2 linked regions of the Homo sapiens genome follow. Each later gene encodes a partner of the first gene's protein in a complex. Each region holds a gene or a part of one and is shown on either strand. Other genes may lie near its edges. The genes, in order: SMARCAL1 and RPA2.

Region 1 (7,274 bases):
ACCAGCTCATTCCTCTGGACAGCCTCCCAGGGATGCTAAGTTAGAGGCCAAGACAGCAAAAGCCTCCCCTTCGGGGCAGAACATTTCTTACATCCATTCTAGCTCAGAGAGTGTAACGCCCAGGACAGAAGGAAGACTCCAGCAGAAGTCAGGGTCCTCAGTCCAAAAAGGAGTGAACTCTCAGAAGGGAAAGTGCGTAAGGAACGGCGATCGTTTCCAGGTGTTGATTGGGTACAATGCGGAACTCATTGCAGTGTTTAAGACCCTGCCCAGCAAGAATTATGGTAATGTCTTCATTTTTCAGCTGTTTTTTTTTTTTTTTCTTATTTTTGGAGTCTCTTTTAATCTAACAGTTTCTCATAAATATTAAGAGAGTGCATTGGCACATGCTGTCCATCCAGTTGTTAAAAATTTTTCAATTTTAGCTTGTTTCCCTTCATAATAGTCATTCCCTTAAACAGCTGCCAAACTTGATGGTTGTCACGTGGCCATCTGGAGAACAGTTGAATGTTACTGAGAAGACGCTTCCTCTGCCAGGTGCTTTATATGCATTGTAGCACTTAAGCTGAACAGCAGTTTTTTTGAAATAAGTAGATGTTATTTTAGTTTTTAAGGTGATGGAACTGGCCCAGCAAGATTAAGTGACAGGCCCAGTTTCATTGGTCTGGAAAGGCAGCGTCAGGATGTGACTAGCTCAATTACAGGCCAGAGCCATTACTCCTCATACTGCTTTGCCTGACCACACTACGACCTGGAGAACTTGGATTCTAGTCCTAACTCTGCCCTCAGTCCTCTTAGGTGAAGTTCATAACTTCCCAGGGCCTGAGTTGGATTCCACTACATGGAATAAAAGAATTATCTATATTTACTATTTGTCCTCTACAGAGATTTTTATAGATCAGTGGGGGCTTGCTGGTCAGCTGTTTTGAACTTGGCGTCCTTCATTCATTCATTTAGAAGACAAGCTTGTGTTGAGTGCCTAAGTACAAATTGTCAACAGTCATCAGTCCTCTGTTTTGTTTCAGATCCTGACACCAAGACGTGGAACTTCAGCATGAATGACTATAGTGCCCTGAGTAAGTAGACACATGGTTGTCTCATGGAGGGTGGCACTGGTGCTGAAAATCTTTAGAGTATCACATGTAGTCCAGCTTATGGAGTGCATGGCTTTACAGGTGGTGAAAGCTTTCAGGGCACCCCCCCCAACACTCCTTCCCACTCTGTCTAGCCTAATGAGGCAGCTCTGTGGGTGAAGGCCGTTAGTAGTATTAACAAAAGCTAGCATTAAATGATGCTTGCTTTGCATTAGGCTATTCTAAGCCCCTTATGCTAACTTTTATTCCTTATAATGACTTTTTTACAGATGGGGAAACTGAGGCCCAGGGACGATGAGTCAGTAACACAGGGTCACATAGCCAATAAGTTGTACAACTGGGATTCAAACCCTGACAGTCTGACTTCAGACTACACGTTCCCACCAGACTATGCTGGCCCCAGCAGTGACAGGCAGCTCAGGCAGCCTGCCAGCCCCTGCTCCCAGGAAGGTAACAGTTCAGCAAACAGCACAGATCCTCAGAGTACTCTCTGTGCAGCTAACTACTCAAAAATGCAAGGAGGGGGCATTGGCCAGGCAAGTTCCAGCTAATGCAGTGTCTGGTCATAGTCAGCACCTGGTTACGTCCCTCTGTCTTCTGAGAAAACTGTCATACACTAAAGTTTTTGTCACTTGATCCTGGTACATGGAGCTTGCACACCTGTGTCAAAGCGTCAGCCCTGTGTGTTTTCATCTTCCATTTATTTTACTCTTCTCCCCCAGCTGCCATTTCTACACCGTCTCTTCCTCCCCCTAGCTTAAGAAAGGAAAAGATAAGGATGTATGCTTAGGTCACTTTGCAGATTTGGGGTATGAGGTAGGATTATCTGGAGGCACCAGTACAGTTTCTGGGAAAGGTGGTTTGGGCCAGTGATGGGACAGCTCCCTGCAGAATTTCCTGGTTTTCTCCTTGGCCTCCAATTCTTGAAATGTGTACATTAGGCGATATCTTTCTTTGGTAGCTGCTAGTGTTGTTAGTTTGCGAGGGCTGCCGTGACAAAGTACCACTGACTGGGTGGCTTAAACAATACAAATTTATTTTTTACAGTCCTGGAGGCTGGAAGCCTGAGATTGGTAGGGTTGGTTTCTTCAGAGGCCTCTCTCCATGCCCTGCAGGTGGCTGTCTTCTCTCTGTGTCCTTGTTTGGATTTTCCTTTGTGTGTGCAAATCCCTAGGGTCTCTCCCTTTTCTTAGAAGAACACCAGTCATTGGATTATCGCCCACCTTGGTGACCTCATTTAACTTATTAACCTCTTTAAAGGCCCTATCTCCATATACAATCACATTCTGAGGTCCTGGGCTGTGTGTTTAACATGAATTTTGGAGGGACACAATTCAACCCATAACGCTGCTGCTGCTAGCTCCGTCTAGTGAGGGCTCATTTTTTAATCGATTTATTTGGTGTTGGAACGGGGAGACCCAAGGCTCTGGATAAAGATTGCAGATTTTGACACCTGGTATTCTCATTGCTGGTGATCTTAAACCAGTGGTTTCCCCTGTTGCGGTTGTTTTGTCTTTTTACTCTTGTTCTGACCACGGTGCATGGTGACTTAGATGACTTCTGCTTTTGCAGATTCATTTAGGTTTTTTGTGTGATATCGTTACTTTTTTTTTGAGACAGAGTCTCACTCTGTCGCCCAGGCTGGAGTGCAGTGGTGCGATCTTGGCTCCCTGCAACCTCTGGCTTCCGGGTTCAAGTGATTCTCCTGCCTCAGCCTCCTGAGTAGCTGGGATTTCAGGCGTGTACCATGCCTGGCTAATTTTTATATTTTTAGTAGAGATGGGGCTTCCTCCATGTTGGCCAGGCTGGTCTTGAACCCCTGACCTCAGGTGATCTACCTGCCTCAGCCTCTAAAACTGTTGGGATTATAGATGTGAGACACTGTGCCCGACTATCATTGCTTTGTGTAATGCTCCACATGTTTTGAAAACCATGTTTATTGGATACAAAATTCTCCATATATACTTCTCAATGAAGCTCATAGAAGAGAAAAAAAATTCTCCATATAGCTTTCAGATGAATTTTTCTAATTGTTTGGCTCCTCTGCATCTTTACCAATGTGTTACACACTTGAGCTTTTGCCTGCTGAGATAAACCTTGAAATTCCTTGCCATAATTATGGATTTGTGAATTTCTCCTTGTATTTCTAAGTTTCAGATAGGTTCATGATTGTGTCTCATGATTGGCTTTTTATTGGTATAACATATAAAATTGTCTCTGTGTCAGTCTTTCTGTCATTTTGCTTTAGGTATATCTCTGGATTTGGCTTCATTAACCCTACCACATACTCACTGTAGAACATATTTTGACGTGTGAAGAAGAAAAACCATCCCCCGTAATCTCCCCACTCAACTAACCATTATTAACATTTTGGTTTCATTCCCTCCAGCCTTTTTTCTATGCGTTAAAATATAAAGTTTTATATATGCATATAATTTGTATTTTGCCCTTTTAATTTAATACTCCAGCATAAAGCATATTTACTTTACTGAATGTTAACAGTTAATTCTAAGTGATGAAAATGTGTCCATTATCATAATGGGCCATTTTGACCTTCAAGAAATGGTTTCGTGTTGTTGAACTACTTTTGTCTTTTCCAGAATTTTTAATACAAAATAAATTTTGATAGCTGTATAACATTCTGTCTTATGAATGTGTCATACATTGCTTAAATTGTTGTTGTTTATTTTTTCCTGCTTGATTTTAATTGGCTGCCAGTTTTTCCAGTTTTAAAGCTGTAGAGGAACACCTTCGTACCTAAGTTTTTGTCTGTATTTTCAACTGGTAGTTGGGATAGATTCCCAGAAGTTGAATCATTATTCTTAGAGCTCTTGCTATAATTGCCAAATTGTTTTCCAGCAGGTTTTATTCCCAACTAGCAATATGGATATCTAATTGTTTCTCATCCTGCAAGTTTGAGAAGTAAAAAAGTATCTTATTTTTCTGATTATTTGTGAAGGTGAACATTTCTTCAAATGTTTCTTAGTCTTTTTCCTCCTGTTTTGAATTGGCTACACTACCCTCTTCTTTTGTGGTCTTAGTACTTTTTTAAAGCATGGGTTCTTTTTATATTTCTTTACTCAGGGTTTTTTTCCTTTCACTCCAGTGTGTGTCTGTTGACAGCTTAGTGTTACACAGCTGAATTTGTTCATTATAAAATGCATCTGTAGTAGATGAAATAATGTTCAGAACTGTGTGTTTGTGACCTGGTGATCCTGGTCCTCACTCCTTTGTTCTCTGAGCAGTAGACAGAGTAGCGACCTAGGAGTGGGCTTAACTGGGTGATTTGTGGTGTGCTGACTTCAGTGGCTTCTCCGACACCGTGCCAGAAATTATCTAATAAGTTTATTCATCCTGGCGAGCTTCCTCTTCCCCTTGTTAATTTCTGAATTTTAAATGTTTTGATGTGAAAAATGTAGGGAGGCCAGGTATGGTGCCTGATGCCTGTAATACCAGCACTTCGGGAGGCTAAGGTGCGTAGATGGTTTGAGCTTAGGGATTTGATACCAGCCTGGGCAACATAGCGAAACCCTGACTCTACAAAAAATACGAAAACTAACCGCATGTGGTGGTGCACGCCTGTAGTCCCAGCTACTGGGGAGTCTGAGGTGGAGGATAACTTGAGCCAGGGAGGTTGAGGCTGCAGTGAGCCATGATCACGGCACTGCACTCCAGCCTAGGTGACAGAGCAAGACCCCGTCTCAAAAAAAAAAAAAAAAAAAGAAAAAAAAAAAAGAAAAACTTACGGAGATGGAAAGTTACATTCAGCAAATATTGAAATTCCCAAAGCCCCAACTAAAAAACACTTTCAAGTCTTCCTAATCTAACAGTGCCTTTTCTTGCCTTCCTGCCAAACCTAGTGCCTCTTGACCATGTCCCTTCCCCACTTTCTCCCTCTTCCCTTGCCTGTATTTCAAAGCCACATCATAGTCCCCTGCTTTATCACTTCTGTTCGATTCTTCTTCTTTGGCAGTGAAAGCAGCCCAGAGCCTCCCCACGGTCAACCTGCAGCCTCTGGAATGGGCCTATGGCAGCAGCGAGTCACCCTCCACCAGCAGTGAGGGACAGGCCGGCCTTCCATCAGCTCCATCCCTTTCATTTGTCAAAGGGCGATGCATGCTCATCTCCAGGGCCTACTTCGAGGCAGACATCAGTTATTCACAGGACCTTATTGCGCTTTTTAAACAGATGGATTCCAGAAGATATGGCAAGTAATTGGTCTTTGTCTGATTCCCAGAATGTGTAGTGGTCTGTGATCTCAACATAGGGTGTTTTTCTCTACCTCGAATATTCAAAAATTACTTTCTTGGGAAAGACTTCCTGTTCTGCTCCTCTTCCTATAGAAAGATGACACGTTAATTGTTCCAGATAGTAAACATACAGTGGTGGCTGTTTTGTCATAAGGCCTCCCAAAGAGAAGACCTCATAATATCCCCCTGGTCAATATCTTCTTGGTAGAAGCAGGTAAATTCCTGCTTCAGCCATTTAAAACCCATCTGTTTTTATTTTGGCCTTTGCAGAGCAGAAAAACAGGTGGTTGCCATAAAAATAAATGCTTTTCCATATGCAAACTTAGTAGTTTTCAAACTTGAGCCTGCAGGGAACTGCCTGCAGGGGTTGTTAAAACGCAGCTAGCTGGGCCCCACTACTGGAGTTTCTGATTCTGGAACTTGAGCATGGAGCCAAACTTTTGCGTTTCTCACAAGTTCCCTGAGCTGGTGCTGCTGCTGGTGATGGTGCCACAGTTTGAAAATGCTGGTGGTTCTGCTCTCGGCCTGCCCATCAGCATCACAGGGCCACTTCAAAAGCACCGATGCCTGGTTCTTACCCAGAGATGTTTATTTTGTCGGAGGTGGGGCTTGGACATTGTCGGGGTGTTTTTTGTTTGTTTTGGTTTTTTTAATCTTCCGATAAGCCTAATTATAAGCCAGTCTTGAAATCTACTGGCCACAACAGAATAGTTTTGCTGTATTTTATTTTATTTATTTTTGAGATGAAGTTTCACTCTGTTGCCCAGGCTGGAGTGCAGTGGCGCAATCTTGGCTCACCGCAACCTCTGCCTCCCGGGTTCAAGTGATTTTCCTGCCTCAGCCTCCCGAGTAGCAGGGACTACAGGCACCTGCCACCACACTGGGCTAATTTTTGTATTTTTAGTAGAAGTAAGGTTTCATCATGTTGGCCAGGCTTGTCTCGAACTTCTTCGCCCACCTTGGCCTCCCAAAATGCTGGGATTAATTACAGGCATGAGCCACCGTGCCTGGCCGTTTTGCTTTAGTTTTTCATGAGGTTCTTCATAAGCTCCCCCTTCAGAATAGGGGAGAAGCAGCTATAGATTCTGGACTCCTGGGTGTCATTCTCAGCTTGGGCCACATTGTTTTTTAAAAACGATGTAGTTTTTATGGATCAGTGTTTCCCCATTCTTGAATTGGTTTAATCTTGTTCTTAATCAAGTAGAACTCAAATACTTAAAACCTCATGCCTTTGAGACCTCACATTCAAGCATTGTCCTGGAAGAAGCCTCTAGAATTGCTTGCTTAACAAGAGCTTTCATCAGGGTTTGGGTTCCGGAGGAGGCTGATGCTGGTTGCTACGTCATCATCCTTAGATGGATGCAGTTTGGACTGATGAGGGCAGACGGGTGAGCAGGGCACAGGGGAGTTGTGCGAGGCCCAGGCAGGTCGTGAGATGAGCTGCTCCACGACAGTCTAGATCCTTTGCCTTTCCTGCCCCCTCAGGTGTTTGGCTTCAGCTTGGGGTGGCCCTTAAAAGGCAACTACGGGCCGGGTGTTGTGGCCTGTAATCCCAGCAGTTTGGGAGGCCAAGGTGGGTGGATCACCTGAGGTCACAGGAGTTCGAGACCAGCCTGGCCAACATGGTGAAACCCTGTCTACTAAAAATACAAAAACTAGCCAGGCGTGGTGGTGCCATCCTGTAATCCCAACTACTCAGGAGGCTGAGGCAGGAGAATCCCTTGAGCCTGGGATGCAGAGGTTGCAGTGAGCCTAGATCGCACCACTGCACTCCAGCCTGGGTGACAATCTCAAAAATAAAAAAGGCAAATACAGTGATATGTGTCTATCACCAGCCTGTGAGATCACACTCCTGACATGGTCTGCATTCTGGGAGTGGGTACCATGAAGGTATGGATACTGATCCTGCTCACACCCAGGTGTCCAAAAA
Region 2 (7,274 bases), on another chromosome or scaffold:
TAGTTATGTAATTTTTAAATTTTTTCCTTCTCAGAAAAATAAAGGATAATTCATTCAGCAGTTATTGTTGGAGTACCAATTCTGAACTAGACTGTGCTTGGTTCCAGGTATAAAAAGAATGAGGTAGACACAGTCCCTGCCATCAAGCAGGGAGGTAGATACTATGGATACCTAATACTACTTGTTCATATAAAATGCACTATGCTTGCTTATAAACCATTTAAAAAATCACCTGACATCTCATGTCTCTTAAAGAACTACTATTACGACACATTTTGGAAAATACCCTTTCAGACATCTGTCTCTGCATATATGTACATACAGGTGTCCACATACCTCTTTTACTGTAGAAGGGATAATATGCTATGCAACTGCTAAGTAATTTGCTCTTTTCACTCAAAATTATGTTGTGGAACTGATTTTTTTTTTTTTTTTTGAGATGGAGCTGTGCTCTTGTTGCCCAGGCTGGAGTGCAATGGCGCGATCTCCAGCTCACCACAACCTCCGCCTCCCAGGTTCAAGCAATTCTCCTGCCTCAGCCTCCAGAGTAGCTGGGATTACAGGCATGTGCCACCACACCTGGTTAATTTTGTATTTTTATTAGAGACAGGGTTTCTCTGTATTGGTCAGGGTGGTCTCGAACTCCCAACCTCAGGTGATCCACCTGCCTTGGCCTCCCAAAGTGCTGGGATTATAGGCATGAGCCATTGGCCTTTTTTTTTTTTTTTTTTTTTTTTAAATAGAGACAGGGTCTTGGCTTGCTGCCTAGGCTGGCCTCAAACCTGGGCTCAAGTGATCCTTTGGCCTTAACCTCCCAAGTAGCTGGAACTATAGGCTGATGCCACCGTGCCTGGTGAGGAGCTGATTTTTTTTTTTTTTTTTGAGACTGAGCTTCACTCGTGTTATCCGGGCTGGAGTGCATTGGTGCAATCTTGGCTCGCTGCAACCTCTGCTTCTCGGGTTCAAGCGATTCTCCTGCCTCAGCCTCTCGAGTAGTTGGGACTATAGGCGTGCACCACCACACCCAACTGATTTTTGTATTTTTAGTAGAGACGGGGTTTCAACATGTTGGCCAGGCTGGTCTCGAACTTTTGACCTCAGGTGATCCTGCCTCAGCCTCCCAAAGTGCTGGGATTACAGGCTTGAGCCACCATGGCCCAGCCAAGAACTGATTTTTTAATGTTATCTGTAAAGATTTACATCTATCATTTTAAATGACCACCGATTCCATTATAAGAATACATCATCCCTTACTTAACAGTGGACCCAGTCAGGGAACAACATTTAACTTCTTTTCAGTCGTTTGCTATTATATACAATGCTCCAGTGAGTATCTTTGCATACATTTCTTCATGATTATAAAATAATCGTAAGGCCAGGCGTCGTGGCTCACGCCTGTAATTCCAGCACTTTGGGAGGCCAAGGCAGGTGGATCACCTGATGTCAGGAGTTCAAGACCGGCACCGCCAACATGGTGAAACCCCATCTCTACTAAAAATACAAAATTAGCTGGGCGTGGTGGCACACACCTATAATACCAGCTACTCGGGAGGCTGAGTCAGGAGAATCAGTTGAAGCTGGGAGGCAGAGACTGCAGTGAGCCAAGATCGTGCCATTGCATTCAGCCTGGGCAACAAGAGCAAAACTCCATCTCAAAAAAATAAAATAATCATAAGATGTATTCCTAAAAGTAGGTTTTCTGGGGGGAAATACACATTTGACATTTTTTTAACATCTTAGTTTTTGCATTTTTGTACTGTCTTCTCTAAAGGTACCAGTTTACGCTTCAGTCATGCATGAGAGTGCCCAGTTAGTTTCCATACCCTTAACATTTTTTTTTTTAAGAAATAGGCTGGTCTCAAACTCCTGGGTTTAAGCAATCCTCCCACCTCAGCCTCCCAAAGTGCTGGGATTACAGGTGTGAGCCTCTGTGCCTATCCTCCATACCCTTTATAACAATGGGTTTTTGTCTTAAATTTTTGCCAGTGTGATAGTTGTTTTAAAAAATAGTCTTTTTGACTAGGTGCGGTGGCTCATGCCTGTAATCCCAGGACTTTGGGGAGGCCAAGATGAGTGGATCACCTGAGGTCAGGAGTTTGAGACCAGCCTGGCCAACATGGTATAACCCAGTCTCTACTAAAAATAAAAAAATTAGTCTGGCATGGTGGTGCACGCCTGTAGTCCCAGCTACTCGGGAGGCTGAGGCACAAGACTCGCTTGAACCCAGGAGGCAGAGGTTACAGTAAGCGGAGATCTTCACACCAGTGCACTCCAGCCTGGGCAACAGAGCAAGACTGTCTCAAAAAAAAAAAAAAGTATACGTAAAAATAATAAAAAAAATTAAAAAATTAGCAGGGCATGGTAGCACGTGCCTGTAGTCCCAGCTATTCGGGAGGCTGAGGCAGGAGAATTGCTTGAGCCTGGGAGATGGAGGTTGCAGTGAGTCAAGATTGCGTCACTGCCCTCTAGCCTGGGCATCAGAGCAATATTCCATCTCAGAAAAAAATAGTCTTTTCAGTGAAAATTTTGTCATTTTTTTATGTGTATTTCTTTGGTTTTAGCCATATATATGTATTTTTTTTTTTACTATGTTTAATGTCAATTTGTGGGGTTTTTGTAAATTTTCTCTTTGATTCCCCTTCCCCTAACAGTGTTTTTGTTTGCAAGAACTTGAAAATGATTATAGTGACCTCTTATAATGAGGCCAGGCACAGTGGCTCACACCTGTAACTTTAGCACTTCAGGAGACTTAGGCAGGAAGATCACTTGAGGCCAGAATTTCAAGACCAGCCTGGGCAGCATGGGAAGACCCTATCTCAAAAAGAAATAATTTTGAAAAATAAATTGTGCAGTTTTTTCTAGTTTACCTTTCGGAAGCTTCTACTAGTCCCAAAGTTTGTTTTTTTTGTTTGTTTGTTTTAGTTAAAAAATACTTTATGGTGGCTGGGCGCGGTGGCTCACGTCTATAATCCCAGCACTTTGGGAGGCCGAGGCGGGAGGGTCACCTGAGGTCAGGAGTTCAAGACCAGCCTGGCCAATGTGGTGAAGCCCTGTCTACTAAAAATACAAAAATTAGCCAGGTGTGGTTGTGGGCACCTGTAATGCCAGCTACTTGGGAGGCTGAGGCAGGAGAATCGCTTGAACCCAGGAGGTGGAGGTTGCAGTGAGCTGAGATCGCGCCATTGCACTCCAGCCTGGGCAACAGGAGCGAAACTGTCTCTCAAAAAAAGAAGAAAAAAAAAAACTTTATGGCTAACAAATTGTAATAATCAGTTATCCGAACCCTCAGCAATTCATAATGTTTTTGCTAGTGGACATTCTTGCCTCACTGTTGATGGCTGCTGACTGAGGAGGGTGGTAGTTGGCTGAAGGTTGAGCTGGCTGTGGCAATTTCTTGAAATAAGACAACAAAGTTTGCCTGAGTAACTGAGTCTCCTTTTCACATAAAATTTCTCGATATTATATCATGCTGTTTGATAGCATTTTACTTACAGTATAACTTCTTTCAAAATTGGATTCAATCTCAAACCCTGCTACTGCTTTCTCAACTAAACTTATGGAGTAGTCTAAATCCTTTATTGTCGTTTTAACAATGTTCACAGCATCTTCACTAGGAGGAGATTCCATCTCAAGAAACCAGTTTATTTGCTCATCCATGAGAAGCAACTCCTTTGAGAGGCCCAGGCGGCCAGATAGATCATTTGAGGTCAGGAGTTTGAGACCACCCTGGCCAGCATGGTGAAACCTCGTCTCTACTAAAAATAAAAAATTTAGCTGGGCATGGTGGTACATGCCTGTAATCCTGGCTACTCGGGAGGGTGAGGCAGGAGAATCACTTGAACCTGAGAGATGGAGGTTGCAGTGAGCCAAAATTGTGCCACTGCCCTCCAGCCTGGGTAACAGAGTGAGGCTCAGTCTCAAAAAAAAGGAAGCAACTCCTCATCCACTCAAGTTTTACCATAAAGTTACAGCAATTCAGTTATATCTTTAAGCTCCATTTCTAATTCCAGTTCTCCTGCTATTTCCACCACATCTGCTGTTACTTGCCCCACTGAAGGTGGAGGTAGCAGTGAGCCCAGATTGTGCCATTGCACTCCAGCCTGGGTGACAGAGCGAGACCTTATCTCAAAAAAAAAAAAAAAATCTTAAGCAGCCACCCAATATATACTTCAGATTAAAAAAGAGCTGTTGGCCAGGTGCGGTGGCTCATGCGTGTAATCTCAGCACTTTGGGAGACTGAGGCAGGTGGATCACTTGAGGCCAGGAGTTTGACACCAGCCTGGCCAATAAGGTAAAACCCCGTCTCTACTAAAAATGCAAAAACTAGCCGGGCACAGTGGTGCATGCCTGTAATCCCAGCTACTCAGGAGGCTGAGGCAGGAGAATCACTTGAACCCGGGAGGCACAGGCTGCAGTGAGCCGAGATCCCACCATTGTAATCCGTCCTGGATGATAAAACGAGACCTTATCAAAAAACCAAATAAATAAATCTCAGCTGGGTTCGGTGGCTGACGCCTGTAATCCCAACACTTTGGGAGGCGGAGGCGGGTGGATCACCTGAAGTCAGGAGTTCAAGACTAGCCTGGTCAATGTGGCAAAACCCTGTCTATTAAAAATACAAAAGCCGGGCACCGTGGCTCACGCCTGTAATCCCAGCACTTTGGGAGGCCGAGGCGGGCGGATCACGAGGTCAGGAGATCGAGACCATCCTGGTTAACAGGGTGAAACCTTGTCTCTACTAAAAATACAAAAAATTAGCCGGGCGTGGTGGCGGGCGCCTGTAGTCCCAGCTACTAGGGAGGCTGAGGCAGGAGAATGGTGTGAACCCATAAGGCGGAGCTTGCAGTGAGCTGAGATCCCACCACTGCACTCCAGCCTGGGCGACAGAGCGAGACTCTGTCTCAAAAAAAAAGAAAAAAATTGTTCATATTATTTCTATGGTTTCTTTTATTATAATTAAACCTATGATCTACATGGAATATATTTTGATAAAAGGAGTTGAGGTAGAGATCTTTTCTCAAGTGGATTCAAAATGTTGTATATGGGAATACAATTGTTTTGTTTGTGTGGTTTTTTTTTTTTTTTTTTCTTTTTTTTTTTGAGATAGAGTCCTGCTCTGTTGCCCAGCCTGGAGTGCAGTGGCACAGTCTCTCACTGCAACCTCTGCCTCCTGGGTTCAAGTGATTCTCCTGCCTCAGCCTCCCGAGTAGCTGGGACTACAGGCACCCACCACCACACCTGGCTAATCTTTGCATTTTTAGTAGAGACAGGGTTTCCCTGTTAGCCAGGCTGGTCTCGAACTCCTGACCTCGTGATCCGCCCGCCTCAGCCTCCCAAAGAGCTGGGATTACAGGCGTGAGCCACTGTGCCCACCCTTTTTTTTGTATTATTAACAGAGGCAGGGTTTCACCACGTTGGCCAGGCTGGTCTCGAACTCCTAACCTCAAGTGACTTGCTCGCCTTGGCCTCCCAAAATGCTAGGATTACAGGCATGAGTCACTGCACCTGGCCAGAGTTTTTATTTTTAAGCATATATTTTCTAGTTTTTTGTTTGTTTTTAGAGACGAGGTCTCACTATGTTGCCCAGGCTGGTTTCAAACTCCTGAGCTCGAAGGATCCTCCTGCCTTGTCCTCCTAAAGTGCTAGGATAACAGGTGTGAGTCCATATACCCCGATATATTTTCAATTTTTTTTAAAGTAATACATTTTATGTAGTCAGAAAAGAACTTTAAAAATCAGCTAATGGGCCGGACACGATGGCTCAAGCCTGTAATCCCAGCACTTTGGGAGGCCGCGACGGGTGGATCATGAGGTCAGGAGATCGAGACCATCCTGGCCAACATGGGGAAACCCCGTCTCTACTAAAGATACAAAAAAAATACAAAAAAATTAACCAGGTGTGGTGGCAGGCGCCTATAGTCCCAGCTATTTGGGAGGCTGAGGCAGGAGAATCACTTAAACTTGTGAGGCAGAGGTTGCAATGAGCCGAGATCATGCCGCTCCACTCCAGTCTGGGTGACAGAGCAAGACACTTCGTCTCAAAAAAAAAAAAAAAAATCAGCTAATGTATTTTTCTTATAAATAATGTGTGCATATTCTAGGAAACTGATAAGTATTAAAATCGTTTTTAATTATCTTAGTCAACCATTATAAACAGTTTAGTGTGTATTGTCCCAAATGGGAAATCAGCTTTTTTCCATGTATCATGACTTGTTTTTCCAGGCAGTAAATAGAATTCTATGTTATCATTTGCAACAGTGTGGAGTATCCTATTATATAGAAATGTGTACTTTATGTTGGATATTTAGGTTGTTTTAAAATTTTTAATATTCTATACTATGATAAATCTAAATCTTAATGCATGTTCTTAATTACTTCCTTAAATTCCTAAAAGTAGAATTGCTTTGCCAATAAGTATATCCACCAGAAAATTGTGTGCCTGCCGGGCGTGGTGGCGGGCGCCTGTAATCCCAGCTACTGGGGAAGTTGAGGCAGGAGAATTACTCAAACCCTCCCTTGGGAGGCGGAGGTTGCAGCGAGCCAAGATCGTGCCACTGCACTCCAGCCTGGGTGACAGAGCGAGACTCCCTCTCAAAAAAAGAAAAAAGAAAATTGTGTGCCTAAGAGCTTGAACGAGAGTGTCACAATTGTTTGCTTTTTTATGATGTGCTACAGAACTTTGGAACTGATAATTACCTTTAGAGATATTTTTATTCTAATTCCTGGTTTTACAAAATAAGTTGTAAAAGGCAGGGCAAACTACTTAATGCCATTTTAGGATCCTTTAACTCTTCTACTTCGTAACTTTCTCTTTCTATACATAATATAGAAACGTTAAAGAGGCTTTTACCAGCATCACTAAAACTTTAATGACATGTTTGTATTTTATGTTAGGACACCAGCAGTGAAAACACTGTGGTTCCTCCAGAAACATATGTGAAAGTGGCAGGCCACCTGAGATCTTTTCAGGTAAAGTCAGAATAAAATAACAGTTAAAGTGTTTTTGCATGAAGCAGTTTCTAGATTCATGTCATGGCTTTTGGATAGTTAAAATACTTAAGTCTCCCTGTTTAATGGGAAGTTATTTCTTACTCTCTTCAAAAGGAAATAACTTTTCTTTTTTTTTTTTTTAACCTTAACATGAAATTAACAGAATGGTAAAGAAAGAACAGAATCTCCTTCTACAATTGCTATCTGTGGCGTTCATTAGTTGGAGAAAGGAGAACACTAGATTCGGAGTCAGGAGTCTAGATTTTGCTTGGTTATGCAATCTT

Evidence for each region.
Region 2: the proteins of SMARCAL1 (region 1) and RPA2 are in contact, whole or in part, in a crystal structure (PDB 4MQV), measured with the Homo sapiens proteins. Residues at the interface, in NP_001120679.1 of Homo sapiens: Leu5, Gln9, Lys12, Ile13, Asn16, Arg17, Ala20, Leu21, Arg23, Arg24, Lys27; in NP_002937.1 of Homo sapiens: Pro222, Glu223, Ser250, Asn251, Glu252, Gly253, His254, Ile255, Tyr256, Ser257, Thr258, Val259, Asp260, Ser266, Thr267.

What each region holds. Positions count from the first base shown.
Region 1 is NC_000002.12:216,415,232-216,422,505, forward strand, and holds part of SMARCAL1 (SWI/SNF-related matrix-associated actin-dependent regulator of chromatin subfamily A-like protein 1), read left to right. Parts: coding exon 1-284; intron 285-1,025; coding exon 1,026-1,076; intron 1,077-5,067; coding exon 5,068-5,301; intron 5,302-7,274. UniProt on the Homo sapiens protein: ATP-dependent annealing helicase that binds selectively to fork DNA relative to ssDNA or dsDNA and catalyzes the rewinding of the stably unwound DNA. Rewinds single-stranded DNA bubbles that are stably bound by replication protein A (RPA).
Region 2 is NC_000001.11:27,897,328-27,904,601, reverse strand, and holds part of RPA2 (replication protein A 32 kDa subunit), read left to right. Parts: intron 1-6,894; coding exon 6,895-6,969; intron 6,970-7,274. UniProt on the Homo sapiens protein: As part of the heterotrimeric replication protein A complex (RPA/RP-A), binds and stabilizes single-stranded DNA intermediates that form during DNA replication or upon DNA stress.